Homo sapiens: one gene and its partners. The protein of the gene in region 2 interacts with the protein of the main gene of each other region in a biochemical or structural test. Each region holds a gene or a part of one and is shown on either strand. Other genes may lie near its edges.

What was found. Proteins that work in one complex are often made in the same cells at the same time.
Region 1: of the proteins of MAP3K14 (region 2) and IKBKB, one has a biochemical effect on the other in vitro, tested with the Homo sapiens proteins (3 studies listed by BioGRID and IntAct, with this or other methods).
Region 3: of the proteins of MAP3K14 (region 2) and CHUK, one has a biochemical effect on the other in vitro, tested with the Homo sapiens proteins (5 studies listed by BioGRID and IntAct, with this or other methods).

Annotation. Positions count from the first base shown.
Region 1 is NC_000008.11:42,315,791-42,323,448, reverse strand, and holds part of IKBKB (inhibitor of nuclear factor kappa-B kinase subunit beta), read right to left. Parts: intron 7,240-7,658; coding exon 7,110-7,239; intron 6,740-7,109; coding exon 6,545-6,739; intron 5,793-6,544; coding exon 5,678-5,792; intron 4,898-5,677; coding exon 4,774-4,897; intron 4,180-4,773; coding exon 4,028-4,179; intron 3,865-4,027; coding exon 3,803-3,864; intron 2,715-3,802; coding exon 2,605-2,714; intron 1,554-2,604; coding exon 1,504-1,553; intron 1,396-1,503; coding exon 1,296-1,395; intron 1,103-1,295; coding exon 955-1,102; intron 1-954.
Region 2 is NC_000017.11:45,306,801-45,314,458, reverse strand, and holds part of MAP3K14 (mitogen-activated protein kinase kinase kinase 14), read left to right. Parts: intron 1-2,021; exon of another isoform or gene 2,022-2,174; intron 2,175-7,658.
Region 3 is NC_000010.11:100,198,450-100,206,107, reverse strand, and holds part of CHUK (inhibitor of nuclear factor kappa-B kinase subunit alpha), read left to right. Parts: intron 1-908; coding exon 909-1,032; intron 1,033-1,450; coding exon 1,451-1,602; intron 1,603-3,958; coding exon 3,959-4,020; intron 4,021-5,327; coding exon 5,328-5,437; intron 5,438-6,087; coding exon 6,088-6,137; intron 6,138-6,939; coding exon of another isoform or gene 6,940-7,007; exon of another isoform or gene 7,008-7,658.

The DNA.
Region 1 (7,658 bases), on a different chromosome or scaffold from region 2:
TGCCCGTCTCAGTTCTTGGCTGTTTTGTTTCCCATTTCCCCACCATGTGGCATCCCATGGACTCACAGCTACGTTAAGACGGTGTGCACAGAAAGCGTGGCTTACTGCACTGAGGGCAGTGCAGACGCAGACGATGGTCAACCAAGTTGCACTGCCGTGCATGACGGTGGGCTGAATTGGTGGCCCTAAGAAGGATATGCCCACATCCCAACTCCTGGAGCCTGTGAGTGTGACCGTACTTGGAGAAAGCGTCTTTAGAGAACCTGAGATGACATCACCCTGGACTACTTGGGTGGGACTCAAATCCAATGACAAGTGTTCTTGTAAGAGTCACCCAGATAAGGGACACAGGGGTCCCATGAAGACAGAGACAGAGACTGGAGTCACACACCAAAGAACGCCTGGAACCACCAGGAGCTGGAAGAAGCAAGGACAGTCCCTCCCCAAGAGCCCTCAGAGGGAGCTCAGCCCTGCTGACACGGGACTTTCAACTCCTGGGCTCTAGAGCTCAGATAACACGTTTGTTTTTGTTTTTAGTAGAGACAGCTCTGCTGCCCAGGTTGGAGTGCAGTGGCATGATCACAGCTCACTGCAGTCTTGAACTCCTGGGCTCAAGCAATCCTCCCACCTCAGCCTCCCCAAATTGCTGGCGTTACAGGCATGAGTCACCATGCCTAGCCCAAATTTCTGTTGTTTTAGCCCCTCAGTTTGTGCTAATCTTTACAGTAGCCACACGAAAGTAATACACAGATGAATGAAAACAATTAGCACAGGCCCTTCCTCTGACCTCCCCGCTTACACCAAGTCAAAGAACAGCGACGTGAAGCCCGAGCAGCAGCTGAGTGGGCTGCTGGTGGCTCTGTGGTGTCCCGTGTGGGATGGCGGCAGTGCACAGAGGTGGAAAGGCACAGGAGGCTGCTAGGCCAAGGGCCCGGGACCACAGCACTCACTCACACAAGCAATCTTCAGGAGATTCCAGAGCTCCTTCTGCCGCTTCTCCTGCAGCCGGACAACAGTCTTCTCATCCTCATTCATTAAGCTCACCACCTCTTCCACCTTGGGCAACAGTTCCAGCGCCTTCTGCTTGCAAACCACAGTTTTACTGCAAAGAATAAACATGGCAAACTAATGGCATTTGGGCTGGAGAAAGCAGAACCTGTGGCAGCTGTGCATCCAGTCAGCAGCTGCAGAAACTCTCTTCATGAGGTCCAGCGAATCAGAGAGGAGGGAGGAAGGTGACCTCATACCTGCATCTCCCAGTCCTTCCTCCAGAGCAGGAAGGTCGGGGCTCATACCTGAGCTGCGTATAGATCACTCGCACTTTCTTCTCGAAGCTCTGAATTGCCTGAAGCAGCAGCCGTACCATTTCCTGACTGTCACCCTCAGTTCGCTGGTCTGGAGAGAGGGAGGGTAGCATAGTTCCTCAAGGAAGCCAGCAGAGAGTAGTGATGCCCCATAAATGAGATAAGGAGAAGCCCAAGGCAGACACAGAACCCCACTTACCTCGAGGTTTTTCCCTTAGTCTCCTGTACAGCTCCCTTGCTTGCTCCTCTCTAAAATATACAAAGAAGTTCTGTCTAGACTTGAGGTCAAATATGGCTAATTTTTACATTTTTTTGGTAGAGGTAGAGTTTCACCATGTTGCCCAGGCTGGTCTCGAACTTCTGGGCTCACAAGCAATCTTCTTGCCTTGGCATCCCAAGGTGCTGGGATTACAGATGTGATCCACTGTGCCCAGCCAAAAACATTTTTTTTTTAAATTAGCTGAGCATGGTGGCATGCGCCTGTAGTCCCGGTTACTTGGGAGGCTGAGATGGGAGGACTGCATAAGCCTGGGAGGTCGAGGCTGCAGTGAGCTATGATTGTGCCACTGCACTCCAGCATTGGCAACAGGGCAAGACCCTGTCTCTTAAAAAAATAATACAAATACAAATAAAAGAACTAGAGGAGAATAAAGGGTTAATTAGAGAAAATACAGAATCAAAGTTCTGACATTTGGAGCTCCTGTCCTAAGAATCCTAGTGAGAGAATCAGGGAACACTGCTGAGCTCACGGTGACACAGCCCTCAAGCGGCCTGCCTGGTTCCCTCCATCTGTACGCCAGGAGCACATGTGATCTCCTTCAGGTAGGAGTGATCTGCCTAGACCCCTCCGCCCCTCATGGAGCCAATGCCAAATACCTGACAAAGACTCAAACGAATAGTTTCCAGGTCCAAACTCCTAAGCCTCATCAGGTTCTTCCTTCTCTGTTTTACTTTCTGCTCTGAGCTATGCCTGAGTCAGGGTGGGTGGAACAAATCAGGGGAGTCTGCTACAGGGGTAGAGGCTGCTTGCATTTTACAGCCTTTACAGATTATGGCCTGCGTCTCAAATGCATTATCTGAATTCATCCTTACAACTTCGTGACTTAAGACTGTTTTTCTTGTCACTGAACAGATTTGGAAACTGAAGCTCAGTGATGATTTGCTGGAAGTGACCCCACAGGGAAGCATGCTCTAGAGAATGGTCCCGCACAGCCACTGAGGGTGCCCTTGACACACACACCGAAGCTCCAGGGCTGTCTGTGTGTGCTGGGCACAGAGGGGCCCCCCAGCCAGTACTCACAGGTCGTCCAGCGTTCCCCCCTGCTTCCGGCCCATGGGGCTCCTCTGTAAGTCCACAATGTCGGTCTGCAGAGCCATCATCCGTTCTACCAGGAGTTTCACTTCGTTCTCCTAATGGAAAAGCTGTGCTAATGTCAACTGATGTGGTAGGCGCATGCTGAGATGCAAGATCTGCGGGGGAGCGAGACCAGGGGACCCGCCACATTCCCTGAGGACCCTCAATGGACTGGCTCAAAGGAATGTGGACTGTGGGGTCTGAATGGCTGCGCCTGCATCTAGGGTCCACCGCTTTCTAGCTGTGTGACCCCTTGGCAAGTTACTTACCCCCAGCTACAGTTTCCTTTTGCATAAAATAGGCTTCTAACAGGGCCATCTGAGGAGTCAAGTAAGATGAAGTACTTAAAGCCTCTGGCATGGTGCCTGGCATACAGAAGATGCCCAAGACACATTACTTTCTCTTCTCTTCATCTGTCTATCCTGATGCTACCCGGGCAGGGAGGCCCAGACTGTTTTATTTCACAGATTATGAGTCCCAAGATGGGGAGGAGCACTCAGCCCTTCTATGGTTAATATTCACCATTAAACACACATATACTCCATCAGTACTGATTCATAAAAATCGATACTAAGACACAGGTGAAGATCCTTGCCCAAGTACACAGGGGAAAACAGAGGATAAGTCCAGGAAAAAGCCCCGGAGCCTGACTTCAACCTTCAGTTTGTGTGAGGTTCATTAAGTCACATGTATTTCCTTTGCCTTCATAATTAACTTTTTTTGGTGACATCTGATTTACGCTGCCCTGAGACTTTCTGCCTAGACCTTTTATTTCCTATGGATTTAGCATCCCAACAAAATTAGTCAAAAACCTTCGACAAGAGGGAGTGTTGATCATCCATCCAATGCCCTTCCTAACAGGAAATGGTCTTGGCTTTTCCCCAAGGGAACCTAACCCTTGCTTCTTATTTAAACCTGGACCATCTCTGTCCATTCATGCAGCTCTTGCATCTGGCCACAGAGGGGCTCCCTTCACTGGCTACTCTCTTGGCCTCTTTTCAGCTGGTCCAGTTAAGCTCAAAGCATGGTGAGGAACACCTGATTTTTGACAGAGATCGACCCAGTGTTTGATGAGAAAGTGAAAAGTGGGAGCACAAAATCTCACCCCCTTGGTAAGTTCCGAAACCCAAAATGAGTCTCCTACCCGCCCACAGAGCTCCACAGCCTGCTCCATTTCCCTCCAGGCCAGCAGCAGTTTATCTGATGCTGAAAAAAAATTGAGAAGGAAAAACAAAACAAAACAAAATAAAAACACCACAAAACTGAAACAGAAATAAGCAACTCAATTATAATAGGACAAAAGAAACCTTAGAAAGAGAAAAAGAAAAAAAAATGGTGTCTTTAAACTCATTGCAAAGTGCACACTCACTGATCCCAAACTCGGTTTGCTCGCTGTACTTCTCCAGGTCAATCTGGATGCTGGTTTTGAAGAAATCCAACTTGGCCTTGAGCTGCTGAGACATGGAAGCCATGGAATTCTTCATTTTGGAGAGGCAGCTGTTGTTTCGGAGGAGATTCATCCTGCAGGGACCACAAGGAACAGTCTTGGAGCATCTCTGGGATCCAAATTCCATTTCCTGTACAATAACAAAACCCCCTCAAATGTCAAGGGAGGTCCCTGCTATAATTATTATCATCATCACTATTATTATAGCAGCCACTTATAACCCAAGGACAATTTCCTAGCCCTCAGCAATGCCTGAGGTTCTGCACTAAACTTGACATCAGGCAAAGGAAGACACAAAAGGCCAATAATGTTGGCAAACGAGTCACAATGAGGAAAGAGTCCGTAAGTCCCCAGCAGCACGGTCAGGGGAGTTTTGCTAATCCACATGGTAGTGAGCTCCTCTGGGTTCCCAAACCAGCCACAGCTTGGCCAGCCCAGCTTCAGTTCCACACTCCTCACCCTGTGCCAACCACACTCACCTCGCCAGGTCTAAAGGGGCCTCCGTCAGTCCAGCCCACCCAACCGCTTCCCGTCCATCCAAACCAGTGTCTTCCTTTTGTTGCTCATAACGGTTGCTTCTGGGTCCCTGCCTCAACCACCTCCCTGTGGCCAAAGCCACCAAGGAATTTTAAATAAATTAAGTTTAAAAAAAAAGCCTGGCACGCTACATGGCGGCTCGCTGTCCCTGCTGCAGCCGGTTGCAATCTTCCTTCAGGGTCTGGATGCTGTGCCAGACCTGGCCCCACACCTTCCTCAGCTGGAAGAAGGCGAGATTCCTCTTGGGCTCTTGAACTGGAGACAGAGACACAAGCAATTGTCAAAGAATAACCACAATAACTCTCCTACAATTAACCATATCCTGCCTTCGACACTACTGGCACTTTCACGTTTTGTACCTACTATAGGATCATGTAACTTTGGAGGGTGTTATGCCTGGTTACTGTCACATACATGTATTTGTACCAACAGCATGTACCAGTGGTCAATAAGTAGCTGTTGATTTGAAGGAACACTTTACGAACCATTGGACACATATGTATATAGGGCCATATATTTTCAACAGAATTTTTTTTTTTTTTTTGAGACAAGGTCTCGCTCTTGTCACCCAGGCTGGCATGCAGTGGGGGTGATCATGACTCACTGCAGCCTTGAACTCTCAGGCTCAAGTGATCCTTCTGCCTCAGCCTCCTGAATAGCTGGACTACAGGCATGCACCACCACATCTGGCTAATTTCTAAATTTTTAGTAGACTTGCGAGCTTACTATATTACCCAGGCTGGTCTTGAACTCCTGGGCTCAAGTGATCCTCCTGCCTCAGCCTCCCAAAGTGCTGGGATTACAGGTGTGAGCCACCACGCCCGTCCTAGGAGGTTGAAATTAACTAATGGTTTCCTGTACTCTCTCTTGCCTGGCTACTCCTTGCATGTCCTAAATAAGGAAGGCTGCCCTGAGGACTGGCGATATTAATTTCCTTTACGTGGCTCCCCCTTCCTTAGTCCAGTCTCCCTTCCCTGCCTTGTCCCACATATTATAACGGATTATTTAGAAAAACAAAACATAACAAATTCTTACGGATACAGCTGACACTTTCAGGTTGGGGCCGTGGGGAGATCTGAGTCTCATAGGTGATTTTACTGTTGTCAAAGAGAAAAACAAGATCCATGTCCAATGTGTGGCCCTCATTTAACTGCAAAGGGACAAGGACAAAATGAATCTTGTGGATCCAACCCTCTCTTTTCTAACTGATAATGAAGAAGTTCCACAGCTTTCCCCACTGTTCAGCAAGAGCATCATCTTCAGCCAGCAAGTAGGAAGCATCCATGAAGTGTTTAACGTTTCCAGCCACACTTACTGTCTGAACACACTCTTTATTTACAAACGTATTACATTCTATTTTACTCTCTGTCTTCCCTGGGAAGTTCAGAAATTCACTATATACTTCCCTATGCAATGATTATTTCTCATATGATAACTTTAGCTCCACAAGTCAGCTGAGAAGGTCTTTTTGAGCAGAGGTCATGTCTTACACAGCTATAGTTAACACAGGTGCCTAACCCAGTTCTGTACACAGAGGCCATCATAAATACTTTCAGTTGACTCAAGAAAGTGCAGCATCCTTTTTTTTTTTTTTTTTAGTACACTTGGAAGAGGGCCAAGCAGGCAACTTGAGAGATTCGAGTGTTATAGCATCATTTTTTGCAATAAAGGCAAGAGACCGGTCTTGGAGGGTTTGGAAGTAACAAGTCCAGCAAGGAGATTTGTGTTTCCTATCAGGCCACACAGAGGACACCATACTCCAACTTAAAAACCAGCCAGGTATCCGCACTGTGTGATTAACAGACTACATGACAAAGCAGAATTGAAATCTGAAAGTGTGTTGAGTTTCCCAGGAGGCACAGCCAAGGTAAACAGGATGGTGTGTACGAAGCCAGGGCTCACCTTGCCGTCTGAAATACACTGAGTGGCAGGCTTATCGGGGATCAACGCCAGGCCCGCTTCCTGCAGCAGCTCCTGGTCCTCCTCTGGGATGCCCGTGTCCTGTTGGATTCTGGCCTTCAAGCTCTGCAGACTCTCATCCTCTGTCACAGGGTAGGTGTGGATGGTGCCCGTGACCATGTTCAAGATATGAACCAGCTGCAACACAACCCAGATGTTACTGGAAAACCGATTTCTTCAAGGAAATGCCCATCTATTTGCCTAGGTCCTCTCTCTGCTACTCCCAACATTTCCCAACCACACAAAGCAAGGGCCTAGCTTGAGGGAGGGAGGTCATGTGCCATGTTTCGCATATTTGCATCTTTCATAATCCTGTCTGTGGCTATGACCTCATAGCCAATGTCAATTAGCACAACTGTCCTTTCTTTACTTATGCAGAAAGACTGATGCAGGAGCCTAAATTTCCTCACTAGGTCAGCTGGCCCCATCCCCTGCTCTGTCCTAAGAACTGCATGTTCCACTGGGGACCCCAGCTTTTGCCTCAGGGCTAACTTGGCTCCACACTCACCTTTAAGTTTAAGATGTCATCCAGGGCCTTGAAGCAGCCATTGGGCCCATACGTGGGATCCGTGCCCCTCTGTCGGGGGTGCCACATCAGCATCAGTTGCAGCCACTTCTCCAGTCGCTCAGCCAGGACACTGTGGAGAGGAGCATAGTGTGTGAGGAGACACTTCCAGCCAATGTTGGGCTACAGTGTGCGTCTCCCAGTATACACACAGACGGCAGCCAGTAGACGGTGATTGAAAATGAAAATGGGTTTATCAGAAACAGTATAAACATTTCCAATCAATTATTCAGGTGTTCACACCTCTCTCCTGAATTCTAAAATACCCCCAAATCAGAGATTGCTGACCTCCAAATGGCTGCATAAGAATGACCCATGAGAGCCGGGCACAGTGGCTCATGCCTGTAATCCCACACTTTGGGGAGGCCAAAGCAGGTGGATCACTTGAGGTCAGGAGTTTGAGACCAGCCTGGCCAACATGGTGAAACCCCATCTCTACTAAAAACACAAAAATTAGCCAGGCGTGGTGATGCACACCTGTAATCCCAGCTA
Region 2 (7,658 bases):
GGTGGGCCGGGGACAATTCCATGTCAGTGGATTTAGGGAGCTCTAAGGATGTCAGCCCCTCTGGTCTCCACACACCAGGATTCCCTAGTAAGGGAACAGAATGGGGCTGAGCATCTGCAAGAGCTGGGTGGGCATTCAAAGTGATGCATGTGTGAAGGTTTTGCATTTACTCGGTGATGCTGGCTAAAATGCTGAAAGTAGTAGCCCAAAAAGGGAAGGCCAGACGTAGGGCAAATTGTAGGGGAGCATTTCTGTTGAGCTGAGCAGGACATTGAAGTATGAGATTTTTTTGTTCTGGGCTTATGACTGCCTGAATGACAATGCAGAAAAAGTCATTTTTCTTCAGTGGCCGGTGTGCTCTTTGTATTCTAGTTTAAAGGAGCCTCTTCCCTTCTTGCTTTTCTACATGTCTTAATCCCTCAGCTCCCTGATAGAAATCCCTTGAAATTATGTGGCATCAAGAATAATTTTATGGCCAGTCTTTGTATTTTCACACCATACTCATGTGAAGAAGGGCAGGGACAAAGATCAGAAAAGTGAAGCCTCATAAGGAGAAACAGACAGGATTGCTCAGAATCTAAACCCCCTTTTCTTGATATCTAGGTCACTGCTTTTTCTACTACCTTGCTCATGAAACGATAAGGATTTTCTTCCCCCAAACATGTCAATTTTGAACATAACGAAACCAGGGTAGCAGCTTTATTTATTTATTGTACCAATCAATTATTAATTGATATTGATTTTTAATTAATAAAAGGCCAAAAGATGAATAGCCTGCTGCCTGGACAGGTGTGCTTGTGCCCATTTTCCAGATGTAGAAACAAAGGCAGAGAGCCCGTGATTTGTCCAGAGCAACAGAACAAGTCCTTGGTGTCTCCGTGTCACATGTGGTGGCTGAGGCTGTCAGGTCAGAGAGACCTGGGTCAGGTCGAGGTCTGCCACGGCCTGCCTGTGTGCCCGCAAGCAAATCACTTCACTTCTCTAATCATCAGGTGCCTCATCTGTGAATGGGATCAGAAATACTTCATGGGGCTGTTTTGAGTAGAAAATGAGAGGAGATATGTAAAGTGCTGAGCCCAGTGCCCAGCACAGAACATAGAGGCTGTAACTGTTGTTGTTGTTGTTGTTGTTCTTGTTGGTGGTGTTTGGTGGTGGTAGTAATAGTAGTAGTAGTAGTAGTAGTAATAGTAGCAGTAGTAGTTGCCAATTACTGCATTGTGACTAAACCTGTTTTCTGTAAGATGATGTCAAGAAGGGTCAGACTGCCTGACAGGCCAGAGTCATTTTCTCAGTAGGACCTTTAGGGGGACAGTCCTTCAGTCTAAAAGCTTCAGCTCTCGGGTTCTCCCTGTCTTACACTATATACTGCCCTCACCATACTCCAAATGAGGCTACAAAGGTCCAGGCTCTGCCCAGTTGACAATCCTAACTCTGAGCTGGAGACACAGCTAGGCCTGTCTAGGGGCTTCCTGTGTCCCACACGTGATCAAGTAGGTTCCTGCATTAATCCTGGAGGTGAGGAAAGGGAAAATACTGTATGGCATGTAGATCAGCAAGGACTTGTTCTTTGGGGGAACAGGAGGGAACATTTGGTTCTGTGGGATGAGGTTCCCACTACCACATGGCATCCCCAGCTCACCACCCTTTCCCCCTCGTAAAGATGTCTTTGTCAGCTTCTCTCTGAGACTCTGTCTGGGGGCCCACGATCTGCAGTCAAGGACTTGCAGATTCCCCTTTAAATCTCACAAGAAGCCTGGAATGGTGACGTGTGTTTCTTTAGTCCCAGCTACTTGAGAGGCTGAGGCGGGAGGATCACTTGAGCCCAGGAGGTCAAGTAGCTATGGGCAACATAGCGAGACCCCATCTCTTGAAAGAAAAACGTTTGTTTTAATCTCACAAGGGAAAAAAAAAGTTTCATGTTATATTTTAAAGTCTTTTTTCACCTTAATACAAAACAAAAATATAGGCTCTCACCAGGCTACTGTTCCCTTTAAATAACATTTTGTTTTCTCTTGGGGAAGCTGACTTGATGGCCGAAGAGTCATTTCTAAAGTGAAGCTAGTTTTTAGAAAAAATAGATCACCGGATGTCAAGCCTCATGTGGAGCTCGGTTCAGATGAAAATGAAACCAGCAGGCCTGGCGTGGCAGCTCTGCACTTGACTTCAGGCTGGAGGTGAGAGGCAGAGTGTGCCTGGACCTTGCTCCATAACTGGTTGGCCCCACAGAGTGCATTTGATAGGTGCCTTAGTCATTTTCCAAGCAGCTTTGCTTAGGTGAGCAGAGCACTTTCTCTGGAAGGTGAGTCACCCATGCAGGGGTGTAGGTGACAGGCGATTTATTCCCCAGCACAGTTGCAGAGAAAGTCCTGAGCAGACCTTCGTGAGGAGCCCTCTGCCACAAATCAGCCTCATCCCAGCCCCAGGGCTATGGAGGCAGGGGGCAGGAGGTAAACAGGAGGCTTCTGGGGCCAGTGGGCTGACAGCGGAGGGGGGATCGTGGACGGGGCACAGAGCCCAGATCAGCAGTGTCACTGACTCCTAAGTCCAGCCACCCTGAGGGTGGAAAATGGCCTGCTTCCAGTGACAGTCAGCAAAGAAGCAGGAGGGGAGCTTTGGCCCTGGGGAGCTGGGAAATCCCTTGGCAGAGAGCAGAGAGACAAGCCCTATTTTGGTGTGAAAAACCTTTTAGGAACGCTTTTCCACCTGCCTCCTTTTCAGCCACCTGAGTTGGAGTCTCTGCAGAGCTCCAGCGATTGTAAAGGCTAGATTAAACCCTGGATTTCAGAAAGCTTTAGGAATCCCAAGCCTGCCACCATCTCAGTTGTCTACACTTCTAGGACCAGGATTTGTACCAAGAAAGAAGCAGCAGGGGGTACTCCTGAGCCATCCCTCCCTCCCAGGTTCTGGTTACTACAGCTTCTCCTGACGCTCTTTCTGCTAAAGCCACTATCAGGTGTCCATTAACGCAGAGATTTTCTTCAGACACTGTTCTGGACTAGTGCAGTTGGTGTTGAACTTGACCGATTATGGTCAGGGACATCTATAAGCAATGTCCAGGACCAACTACAAGGAGGGCTTGACTTTAATGAAGCTGCAGCTCTTGCAAATAATCTCGTTCCCTGTCTCTGGCAGACTACCAACCCAGCCCCTGTACCCATACCCCATCAGTCTGGACCAACCAGTAGTCACCTCCTGCTGGCATGGCTAAATAACCTTAACCTCACTGTCCAGAAAGAGCTGTTAGGATTATAGCCTGGACATGATCATTCACATTTTTTGCAGTGAGAAAATGCAGAAGAGAAAATGGTGGCCCAAGAAAGCCAAGTGGGTTGCCCAAGGCCACACAGCTAGTTAATGGCAGAGCCTGAACTATAAAACCCAGACTCTTCACTGTACTCTGCTGCCAGGGAACGAAGGAACTAATCCTGAAGCAGGATTTTTTTTTTTAAACTAGCTTCTCCTTTTATTCCCCTACCACAACCCTATCACTCTCAGCCTTTCTGCAAGCTCTGCCAGGCCTGGGAAGGGTGGAGCCACAGCAGCTGCTGCCCTGGGTCTAAGAAAAAGTAAACAGAAAGCTATTTGTTGGACGCTGTCTTATACCATGAGGTTCATGTAATCAAAAGGAGGTCAAGGTTGATAAGAAAATACAATTACCAGGAAGTCTCAAAGGTTGCCCACACCTTTAGGGCACTTTCCTACCTAGCCAAGCAGTATCTCACCTAGAGTGGGTATTTAGTAACTTTCAATGATTGATTACAGGGGTCCAAACCCACAGTGCACGAAGCTCTTCTGCATCTTTCTTCTGTGCAGGAGGTGCATGCATACTCTGGGTGTTATCCTAGCTGATCTGCCTGGCTCCTCTCAGTGAGAGGCTCTTCCTTGTGGGTGAAGCATGATGTCATGATGTCATATCTGGATGGTGGCCCCTGTAAGTGCAAAGAATTATTGTAGCCAAAATCTACCACCCACCTTCTACTGACATTAAAGTTTCCTTTTACTGGGCCAGAATTAAAAGGTAGGTGTTTCTGGTCCATACTAGGGATAGCCAGGAGGGTTGGGAGGAAAAGGAGGCTTAGCCAGCCTCCAATGAGGATGTGGTTGCCAGTTAAGATTATAAATGGAGGCTGGGCACGGTGGCTCGTGCCTGTAATCCCAGTGCTTTGGGAGGCTGAGGCGGGCGGATCACAAGGTCAAGAGATTGAGACCATCCTGGCCAACATGGTGAAACCCCATCTCTACTAAAAATACAAAAAAGTTAGCTGGGCATGGTGGCACATGCCTGTAATCCCAGCTACTCGGGAGGCTGGGGTAGGAGAATCACTTGAACCTGGGAGGTGGAGGTTGCAGTGAGCCAAGATCCACCATTGCACTCCAGCCTGGGCGACAAGAGCGAAACTCCGTCTCAAAAAAAAAAAAAAAAAAAAAAAAGATGGACTCCTTTGGCCAAGGGAGTTGATTGGACCCACCAGACTCCTTGAGTCCTGCCCAACAGTCTCCACTGGCAGATGCTGTGCCTGGAGAGGCAGGAATAGCTTTGTATAGATCAATGTGAAGGACAGAGTCCTGCACCACCTCCCTCTAGCATGTATTAGATACTTGCAAATATATGCAAATCCGAGCCCAGATGGGTGTTGTCCAGTTCAGAAGGGTTATCTTCTCAAGCAATTAGAAGTAATTGGGTCTCTAGGTCAGCATTTAGGAAAGGGGATGGCAGGAGAGGCTCCACAGCCATCTTTCAGGACACCTGCTTGCTGGGGTGCAGTTAGAATACAGCCACCAAGTTGTGACTCCCTCCCTTCCAGCCTGCCAGGTGATTGGACAGTGTGGACACGTGTCCCTGTCCAGCCAGGCTCTCAGAGCCTGTGGCACTCATTTATTCCTCAGAAGTGTGTCTGTCCTTTCACTCAGGAACATTTGCCAAGTGTGTCAAATGGGCCATGTCTGCTAGGTGCTAGAAAACCAAACACAATTGAGGCACCGCCCTGGAGGACCTCACCAAGACAGGGGTAAGCTGGGCACGAAGGCAGACATCTCACAGGTCAACCCCGGTGCTGGTCAGGAGCCATGACTATAGGAGCTGGAGGGAGCGAGGAGGCCACCATGCGCAGCCCAGTGGCCCTCCTTTTCCAGCCTGAGCCAGCACTGTCAGGCGTAGAGCGTCTCGGATTCTGCAGGTGCCTGGGTGGGAACACCTTGGTATTTCTCTCACCCTGGGGTCTTGTACCACTTGTCAGCTTGGAGCGGGAGCTTGGTAACAGTTGGGCAACTTCAGCACTCTGGGGGAAAGAAGTGCATTTTCAGAAGCGTAGGGACAGTCAGGAGAAATTTGCTCAAATGTTGCTTGGGCACAGTGGCTCATGCCTGTAATCCCAATGACTTGGGAGGCTAAGGCAGGAGGATTGCCTTTTAGGCCAAGAACTGGAGACCAGCCTGGACAACATAGTGAGATCCACCTCCAAAAAAAAAATTTTTTTAAACTAGCTGGACATTGCCAGGCGCAGTGGCTCACACCTGTAATCCCAGCACTTCGGGAGGCCAAGACAGGCAGACCACTTGAGGCCAGGAGGTCAAGACCAGCCTGGCCAACATGGTGAGACCCGTCTCTACTAAAAATACAAAAATTAGCCAGGTGTGTTGGTGGGCACTTGTAATCCCAGCTACTCGGGAGGCTGAGGCACAAGAATCACTTGAACCTGGGAGGCAGAGGTTGCAATGAGCCATGATCGCACCACTGCACCCCAGCCTGGGCGACAGAGCAAGACTCTGTCAAAAAAAAAAAAAAAAGATTAGCTGGGCATGGTGGTGCTTACCTGTAGTCCAGCTACTTCAGAGGCTGAGGTGGGATGATCACTTGAGCTCAGGAGTTCGAGGCTGTAGTAAGCTATGGTTGTACCACTGCATTCCAGCCTGGGTGACAGAACAAGTCCTCTTCTCAAAAAAGAAAATATAGTTCAAAGTAGAATCAGACAGTGAGTAGCCAGCTAATAAACACATAACTGACCACCTCCCACCCCTCCAAGTGAGAATTGGGAGGGCAGTGACCACACTGGCACATCCCATAGGCTTGGTGCCACTAGAGAGTTGTAGGCAGGTAGATCAAGGCAGTGCTTCTAGGTAACTGGGTTCAGCATTCCAAGAAGGCCTTTCAAGGGTTTCAACAGAGAAGGCTCTTGGTCATCCTCATATTCCTGCTGGCCAGCACGGTGCCTGAAACATGGTAGCCACTGATTAAATATTTGCTGTTGAGTGAAAGTACAAGACTTGAATCCAAACTCCTCCCGCTAAGCCCTGCTGGCCTCGGGGAGGACGAGAGAGCCGTGGGCTGTTTCATGATTTACCCTCTTTTACCAAAGAATCGTGTGAGATCCTCTGAGAATATTCCTCATCATGCCCCATGTCCCAAGCCCTTTTTTACCTTCCCAAGGGAGGACAAGAATATGACCCCTCATTATAAAGGGACCCCTCTGCCACTCATGTCCTCAAGCTGGTTACTTGGTCCAGCTTGTCAAAGAGCATGTGGGGCAGCATCTGAAATGAGGCCAGGGTCAAGGTTGCCCCGCCACAGGGCGGAGCTGGACCTGTGCCTCCTTCCATGCATTGGAAGCCTTCTGTGGAAGCTGAGTTCTTTGGGTTTCTTGTTTATTCTGAAGTTCCTCAAACTAGTTCCTCAATTTCAGAACCAGTCACCAGTGACTACAATGAACTTGAATTCTCCTATACAGGGAGCCTGAGCCTGTCTTTCTTCATCTTTTCTGAACACAGGTAGACGCTGCTTGAAGCCACTCCCACCTCTGAAAACCAGATTTCTAAACCCAGAAAGGAGCGGTGGGTGGTTGTATTTCAGCGAGATTGACCGTAGCCTAGGGAACTTCTTGCTCAGAATCCACCCCAAAAGGTTAAATAAGGAGAGTTGTTTTTCACAACCAAAATGCTGCTTGTAACGATGATCTCAAAGCTTGGCAAGATCACAAAGTACGTTTTGAGTCATCAAAGAAACTGGCTGTGTTTCACATGATTTTAGTGTCAAGGGCAATTATGGCCATCTAATCTTTGGAAATTGGTCATGTTAAGTGGCATACAGGGCAGCCCCCACTTAATCAGAATATTCAGTTACACAAAATACCCTAAGTTGCTGATTTCGATGACACTTGAAATTTTTTTAATTAATTAATTAATTAATTTTTTTTTTTAATTTTTTGAGACAGAGTCTCACTCTGTTGCCTAGGTTGGAGTGCAGTGGCACAATCTCGGCTCACTGCAACCTCCACCTCCCGGGTTCAAGCGATTCTTGTGCCTCAGCCTCCCGAGTAGCTGGGATTACAGGCACCCACCACCACACCCAGCTAATTTTTGTATTTCTAGTGGAGGCAGCGTTTTGCCATGTTGGCCAGGCTGGTCTCGATCTCACAACCTCAGGCAGTCCGCCCGCCTGGGCCTCCCAATGTGCTAGGATTACAGGTGTGAGCCACCACTCCCGGCCTGAAAAATTTTTTATACAATATACATTAAACATTCCTTGTTGCTTATTGTATAAAATTAAGTACACGTGTGACAGGTTTTTATCTCAATACTACCTTGCCCGACATGTTCTCCTGCATATTGGGTCTTTGTGGATCCATGATGCCCCCTGTGGCGTCTTTTCTATTTGCTGTTGG
Region 3 (7,658 bases), on a different chromosome or scaffold from region 2:
CACATTACATTTGGTTGTCATGTCTCTTTAGCTCCTCTTTGCTGTGACATTTTGTCAGACTTCAAATAGTCCTTGTTTTTGATGACCTTGACAATGACCTGAGGAATACTAGTCAAGTATTTTGTAAGATGTCCCTCTGCTGAAATTTGTCTTTTTGTTTTTGTTTTTGTTTTGTTTTTGAGATGGAGTTTCACTCTTGTCGCCCAGGCTGGAGTGCAATGGCACAATCTTGGCTCACTGCAACCCCCACCTCCCGGGTACAAGCGATTCTCCTGTCTCAGTCTCCCGAGTAGCTGGGATTATAGGTGCACACCACCACGCCCAGCTAATTTTTGCATTTTTAGTAGAGACAGGGTTTCACCGTGTTGGCCAGGCTGCTCTTGAACTCCTGACCTCAAGGGATCTGCCCGCCTTGGCTTCCCAAAGTGCTGGGATTACAGGCGTGAGCCATCACACCTGGCTCTTGTGTGTATTCTTAAACCTGGATTGTTGGTCCAGAATATGAAATTTATTATTCAGAGGTAGGAAAGACTCAGAGGAGATGGGACTTGATTTAGAACTTGAAAGAAATAATTTGGATTAGCAGAGAGAAAAAGAGTATTCCAGGTTGCAGAAAAGCAAGCAAAAAAGACAGATACAGGAATAATCTCAAGCTCTGTGAGTGTAGCGATTGTGTCATTTTTATTTCCCCCCTTGTATGTGGAGCGGGGCTTAAGTATTGCAGGTGCTCTGTAAATGTATATTGAACTGAATTAAATGGAAACAAGTGGTTCTTTTAGCATCAGTTTCTAGCATCTATGGGAATCCTGTTTGTGTGGACAGGAAATCACAAAGAATGATAAATCAACTCTAAAATCCTCAAAAGTAACTAACCTCCCTTGCCCTTTTTCTCATCTTCTTGTATATAGTACAGGACAGCAAAATACAGCTTCCAATTATACAGCTGCGTAAAGTGTGGGCTGAAGCAGTGCACTATGTGTCTGGACTAAAAGAAGACTATAGCAGGCTCTTTCAGGGACAAAGGGCAGCAATGTAAGTGGATTCTGTTGTTTATAAGCACAATGCAATGTGCATCATATACTCAAGAATTAATCTTGCCGGTTTTCACTAATCAATATTGCATGTAATAGTAACATACTGGGCCAATTTGAAGTGTAATGTTCTGATAAACTTGTAGAATTCTTACTAATGGACTGAGACCATTCTATTGTAATGGCTTGAGGGTAATAATTCCCATACGGTCCTAGTATAAAAAGATTGTTTATCACAAAATATTATAGGCAGGAAGTCTTTAGAGATCAGATTCTAGAGCTCAGTTATTTCTCATAGATTGATAATAGAAACTTAGGCTTTGGCCTTGTGGCAGTTTATGTTTTTACATTATTGTTCAATGTTTCTGAATGCTGATAATATCTTTTTTCTTTTTCTTTTTTTTCTTGCTGTGGTTTAGGTTAAGTCTTCTTAGATATAATGCTAACTTAACAAAAATGAAGAACACTTTGATCTCAGCATCACAACAACTGAAAGCTAAATTGGAGTTTTTTCACAAAAGCATTCAGCTTGACTTGGAGAGATACAGCGAGCAGATGACGTATGGGATATGTAAGTGTCTGTGTAATGTATTTGAAAGGAGCATCTGGTTTCTTGAAGCCATCTGTTATTTTGCCTTCTTAACTCAGCCAGTTGTTTTACTTACCTTCACATTAGAACAAGAGACAGGACAACTTAAATTAACATAAACCATGTTTGTTTTGAATGTTACCTCTTTTTTTAAATTTGCTTAGTTGAGCAATTTAGCTTCACAATTGGGCTAAAATTATTTAGCTCTAAAAAAATACAGGTGCGATTTAATAATCTTGAATTTCAAACCTGATTTTAAAATAAATACAAAATCTGGACTTCTTAGCCAGTGCTGTGGACTGAATGTATCCCCCCCAAAATACATATGTTGAAATTCTGACCCTGAAGGTGAAGGTGTTGGTAGGTGGAGCCTTTGGGAAGTGATTAGGTCATGAGAGTAGAGCCTTCCTGTTTGGGATTAATGCTCTTACAAAAGAGACCTGAATGAGATCCCTCATCCCTTCTGCATGTGAGGACAGAGCAAGAAGATGGTCATCTAGGAACCAGAAAGCAGGCCCTCAAATCTGCCTTGTTCTTGGACTTCCCAGCCTCCAGAACTATAAGAAATAAATTTCTGTTGTTTTTATGGCACTTAGTCTATGGTATTTTGTTATAGTAGTCCAAATGGACTAAGACAACCAGGGGAGTCTTAAACTGCTTACTTTTCTGTAAATAATGACACAAATATTCTAAGGCTATGTTTTTTTCAAACCATCTACTGTGGAGTCCTACTATTTTTTAGTGTACACAGTCTCCAAATTTTCCATATTTGACTCCAAGCTTATCTCCTTCAGATGTACTAAGGAAGTGTAAAAAAACAGAGTTAAAATATGAGTAAATTGAAGGAGTCATACTACCAGCATTTCTGTTTTCTTTTATAAAACAAATCCTTTTTAGGAAACAAATACTTGTTTCCTAAAAACATATACTTGTCCTGAGCAAACTCTGTGTATCTCAGAGTAAACAATCAATAGTGTCCAGTTGGGTGAATGAATTTACTCTCCAGAACTGGTTTTATTAATATTATTGATATTTTATTTCTATTTATATATTATTGATATTTTATTTCTATTTGTATATTATTGACATTCTGGTGAGTGATAAAACATTATAATTATTTCATTAAAATATCTTAGACTTGTCAAAGGCTTATTATACAATTGTTAAAGAAAAATGAGGTAGATCTATATGTGCTTTTATTAAAAGATCACCTAAGTCTTTAGTTGACAGTTTTAAATTGTGGGAAAAAATAAAGAGTATACAGATGTTTTCACTTGTGAGGGAGCAGGCTATGTGTCTATGTAACAGATAATCATAGTAAGGTCCCTTGAGGTGGATGGTAGAGGGGTAGAAGAGAGAGTCTTTTCTGTTTATATCCTTTTATAGTATTTAATTTTTAAAAATCATATTCAAGTATTAAATTTCTTTTCTGGCCAGGTGGTGACTCACGCCTGTAATCCCAACACTTTGGGAGGCCAAAGCAGGTGGATCCCTTGAGCTCAGGAATTCAAGACTAACCTGGGCAACATGGGGTAGAACGCCATCTCTACAAAAAATGTAAAAATTAGCCGGGCATGGTGGTGCACACCTCAGCTATTCAGGAGGCTAAGGTGGGAGGATCGCTTGAGCCCTGGAGATAGAGGTTGCGGTGAGCTGAGATCATGCCACTGCACTCCAGCCTGGGTGACAGAGTGAGACTCTACCTCAAAAAAAAATTTTTTTTGTTGTTTTTTCCTTTATCCACCCATCTGCACACTGGTATAAATATATATATTTTTAAGAAAAAAGTCATCTGTATTCATTTCCTAAGGGTTCCATAACAAAATCCCATAAACTGAGTGGCTTAAGCAATGGAAACTTACTGTCTCACAGCCCTGGAGGCTAAAAGTCCAAAATTGAGGTGTTGGCAGGGCCATGTTTTCTCTGAAATCTGTAGAGAAGAATCTTTCCTTGTTTCTCTCTAGCTTCTTATGGTCTGCTAGCCATCATTGGCATTCCTTGGCTTACAGCTGCAGCACCTCAATCTGTCTCCATTGTCACAGAGCATTCTCCCCTGTGTATCTGTATCCTGTGTCTCTTCTAAGTACACTGGTCGTACTGGACTAAGGGCCCAGACCATTCCAGTATGAGTATTAATTTATCTGATTACTTCTGTAATGACCTTATTTCCAAATAGGTCACATTCTGAGGTATTAGGGGTTAGGAATTCCACATATCTTTTGGGGGACCACAATTCAACTCATAACACATCTTTGATGTTGATATGGCAAGGAGGCAGGCAGCCAGTAATTAAAGATATGGCTATTTCTGAGATAACCAATTTAGACTTTTCTTTTAGCTTCAGAAAAAATGCTAAAAGCATGGAAAGAAATGGAAGAAAAGGCCATCCACTATGCTGAGGTAAAATCATTGACGTCATTCTGTATACTTATTAATTCTTGATGTCTCCATTAGAAACTATCTTTGGTTTTGATATATAAAGAGCATTTTTCATGTCATTCCTGAAATTCAGACAAAATTCTAGTAGATGCTTTGTATATAAAGAGGGATGTATCATAGTGATTAAAAACAAGGGCTTTGGGAAAATTACCTAGTGCCTCACTGAGCTTCAGTTTCCTTTATTTATTTATTTTTTGAAACAGGGTCTCACTCTGTTGCCCAGGTTGGAGTGTAGTGGCATGATCAAAGCTCACTGCAGCCTCGACTTCCCAGGCTCAAGCAGTCCTCCCATCTTAGCCTCCTGTGTAGCTGGGACAAGAGGTGCACCACCATGCCTGGCTAACTTTTACATTTTTTGTAGAGACGGGGTCTCACTATGTTGTCCAGGCTTGTATCAAACTCCTGGGCTTAAGCAATCCTCCCACCTCAGCCTCCCATAGAGCTGGGATTATAGGCATGAGCCACCACATCCAGCTAGTTTCCATATTATAGGGACAATTTCTTTTCTAGTAGGGTTATGAAGATTAAATGGGAGTCAGTAATGGTAGTTGTCACTATTATTTTTGTGACTGGTTTAGATAGGATGGCTGCACATCCTGGTTTACCTGGGACTGTCCCAGTTTATACTTAATGTCTTGCCATAATTATCAGTAGTAGTCCCTTTCACTCTCAAAATTATGCCGGTTTGGACAATAAATTATATGGTGTCCCTAGGTATAGCTCATTCTCTAGGTGGCAGATTTTTTCCCCTTATCCTGTACATTTGTCCACGGTCCTAAGTTATTACACTCCTTAATGTCAGTACTTACCCTGAGGATGTGGGTGGGGATACCCATGGTGTCCTGGGGTGGGAAATCCAAGTTCTTTATCTTTTTGTGTCCCTATTCAAGGTAGTGGGGACCAGGGGGCAGTCAAAATCATAGAGCCAAGATACAAGTAATACCAATGGTTTTGGTGGTCCTTTTTCTTTCTTGTTAGTTGATACCTGTTGTAGCTTTTTGCTTCTCCGGAGGTAAAAGCAAATACTAGTAGTTTACTGTTGTCAGGAGAGAAAAGAGAGAAGACTAAGACTAAGTATGTTCTTATGTGAAAGATTAAGTGTCAGAATCTGAAGAATAGAAAGGCTTTAACAAAATCAGTGTTTCGTATTATATTATTTAGTTCTCTAATGAAGCAGCAAGTCATTCTGTATCCTTAAGATCTGAATTTTGTTTCCTATGATGTAGTGGTAAGCCTTTCATTTCCTTTGTATTTTCATCATATTTTAGGTTGGTGTCATTGGATACCTGGAGGATCAGATTATGTCTTTGCATGCTGAAATCATGGAGCTACAGAAGAGCCCCTATGGAAGACGTCAGGGAGACTTGATGGAATCTCTGTAAGGATGCACTTGTGTTGTTGGTCTTGACATCTGTAATATTTTGTATTCTTTCTGCTTACATCTGGCAAATTAAACCTCTAGTGGTTCTTTTCTATAGTTTTCCTTTCCCCAAATATATTGGCATTATATTTAAAATGGAAGCTTTTTCTCAGTCACAGGAAACTTCGGAAATAATTCTTTGGGTTGGCCTTTTTTGGTTTTTAATAAAAGCATTTATTTCATAGGAGTGTTAAGAATTTTCCAAGTATAACTAAGTTACAAACTATTTCCCTACTCATTATACCTCTGGTCCAAGGTATTGACTCTTAAATGCCCTAAAACTTGAAATTTTTTCTGAATTAAAGTTCTGGATTAAAAACTTCAGATATTTTCTCGAATTATAGGTCATAATTTTTGTCTTTTTAAGTGTCTGTGGTGCAGAGATGTCCCCATGATAGATCAGAATAGATATGAACTATATTAAACTTTGCATTTTAAGAACTTGTATAGTTCTTATTACTCAATACAATGCTCTGTGAAATACTTGTTGGCAATATGAACTTGCTTTAAAATGGGTTCATTATTCAAATAAAATATTGTTTCAAGTTGTAGATTATTGAAGTCATTAAATTACCTTCACTTATCAGAGCGTGTTTTCTCTTTTATAGGGAACAGCGTGCCATTGATCTATATAAGCAGTTAAAACACAGACCTTCAGGTAAGACACTTCTACCACAGTGCTTGAAGGCATTTTAGGTAACTATCACTAGCCTAACAAATGTGGGGGATCTAATATTTTTAAGTTAAAAATTTTCTTAAAGCTGCAGAATAAATTCCAGTTTTGGTATTGCCATTGAGACATGGTATAATAAGCTTTAAGATTGTGAGAATTTAGGAGATGATAAAGAGAAAGTAACAGAGAACGTGAGGTAGAAAAATTTTAGAAGGGGACGTGAAAAGAAAGAATGGAAGACAGAAAAAAGGAACTCAGAGAGGAAAAAGCAGCAAGAAAATGTTTAGAAAGATGGAAAAAATAAGTGTTGCTTAAGATTAGAGAGGTTGGGCCAGTTGTGGTGGCTCATGCCTGTAATCCCAGCACTTTGGGAGGCCAAGGTGGGTGGATCACCTGAGGTCAGGAGTTCAAAACCAGCTTGGCCAACATGGTGAAACCCCATCTCTACTAAAAATAGAAAAGTTAGCTGGGCATGTTGGCATGTGCCTGTAATCCCAGCTACTTGGGAGGATGAGGCAGGAGAATCGCTTGAACCTGGGAAGAGGAGGTTGCAGTGAGCCAAGATCACACCACTGCACTCCAGCCTGGGTGACAGAGCGAGATTCTGTCTCAAAACAAAACAAAAAAATATTATAGAGGTTGGAAAGAATTTGAGGCAGTGGGTTCAGGTATGGAATGGTTAGAGGGAAGGCCTGTGCTGTTCTAGGCCAAAGCAGATTGCTTTGAAAATAATGCCTTCATCTGCACTGGTCACTGATGACTTGTTTTGTTGGCAAAATAATTCCAGTTGAACATCTGCTAAATACTGAGCAAGGTCTGCTGGAAAGAGTACTGGATGGGGAATCAGAGGCTTGAATTCTAGATTGAGTAATTTACTGACCGTTACCTCAGGCAAATCTGCGTTTCCCATTTCCTTCTTCTGCAAAATGGGGTTGAAACCTAGCTTTCCTACTCAGTGAGTATATTGTGACAGTGTATTTAAGAGGATGTTTGTGAAAATGCTTTGAAAACTATAAACTATTATGTACTTGCAAGATATTATCATTTAGTTAAAAATTTGTTTTGAAGGGTAACAGAAGAAATAAAGTCTGTGCCCTAATGTGCATTATACTTAAATGCATGTTAAAAAAAGATATACTTTTACACTTTAAAATTTGTAGACACATAGCAACACATGCAAATTAATATACATGTGAAATTGTATTTCATATACTATTTTCACATTTAAAAAATAACATTATCTCCTCTTATACTGCTTTTATTTTACTGAAATGTATTCAGTTTAGTCTGACCAGCAGTTCTCAAAATGTGGCATATGGACCTGTGAGAATCCTTGAAACTTTGTCAGAGAGTCTGTGAGGTTAGAACCATTTTCATAATAAGATGTTATTTGCATTTTTCACCATGTTGACATTTTCATTGATGGTGCAACATAAAATGGCTTTCACCTTAGTATGAATCAAGGCACTAGCGCCAAACTATGCTAGTAGCCGTTATATTTTTTAC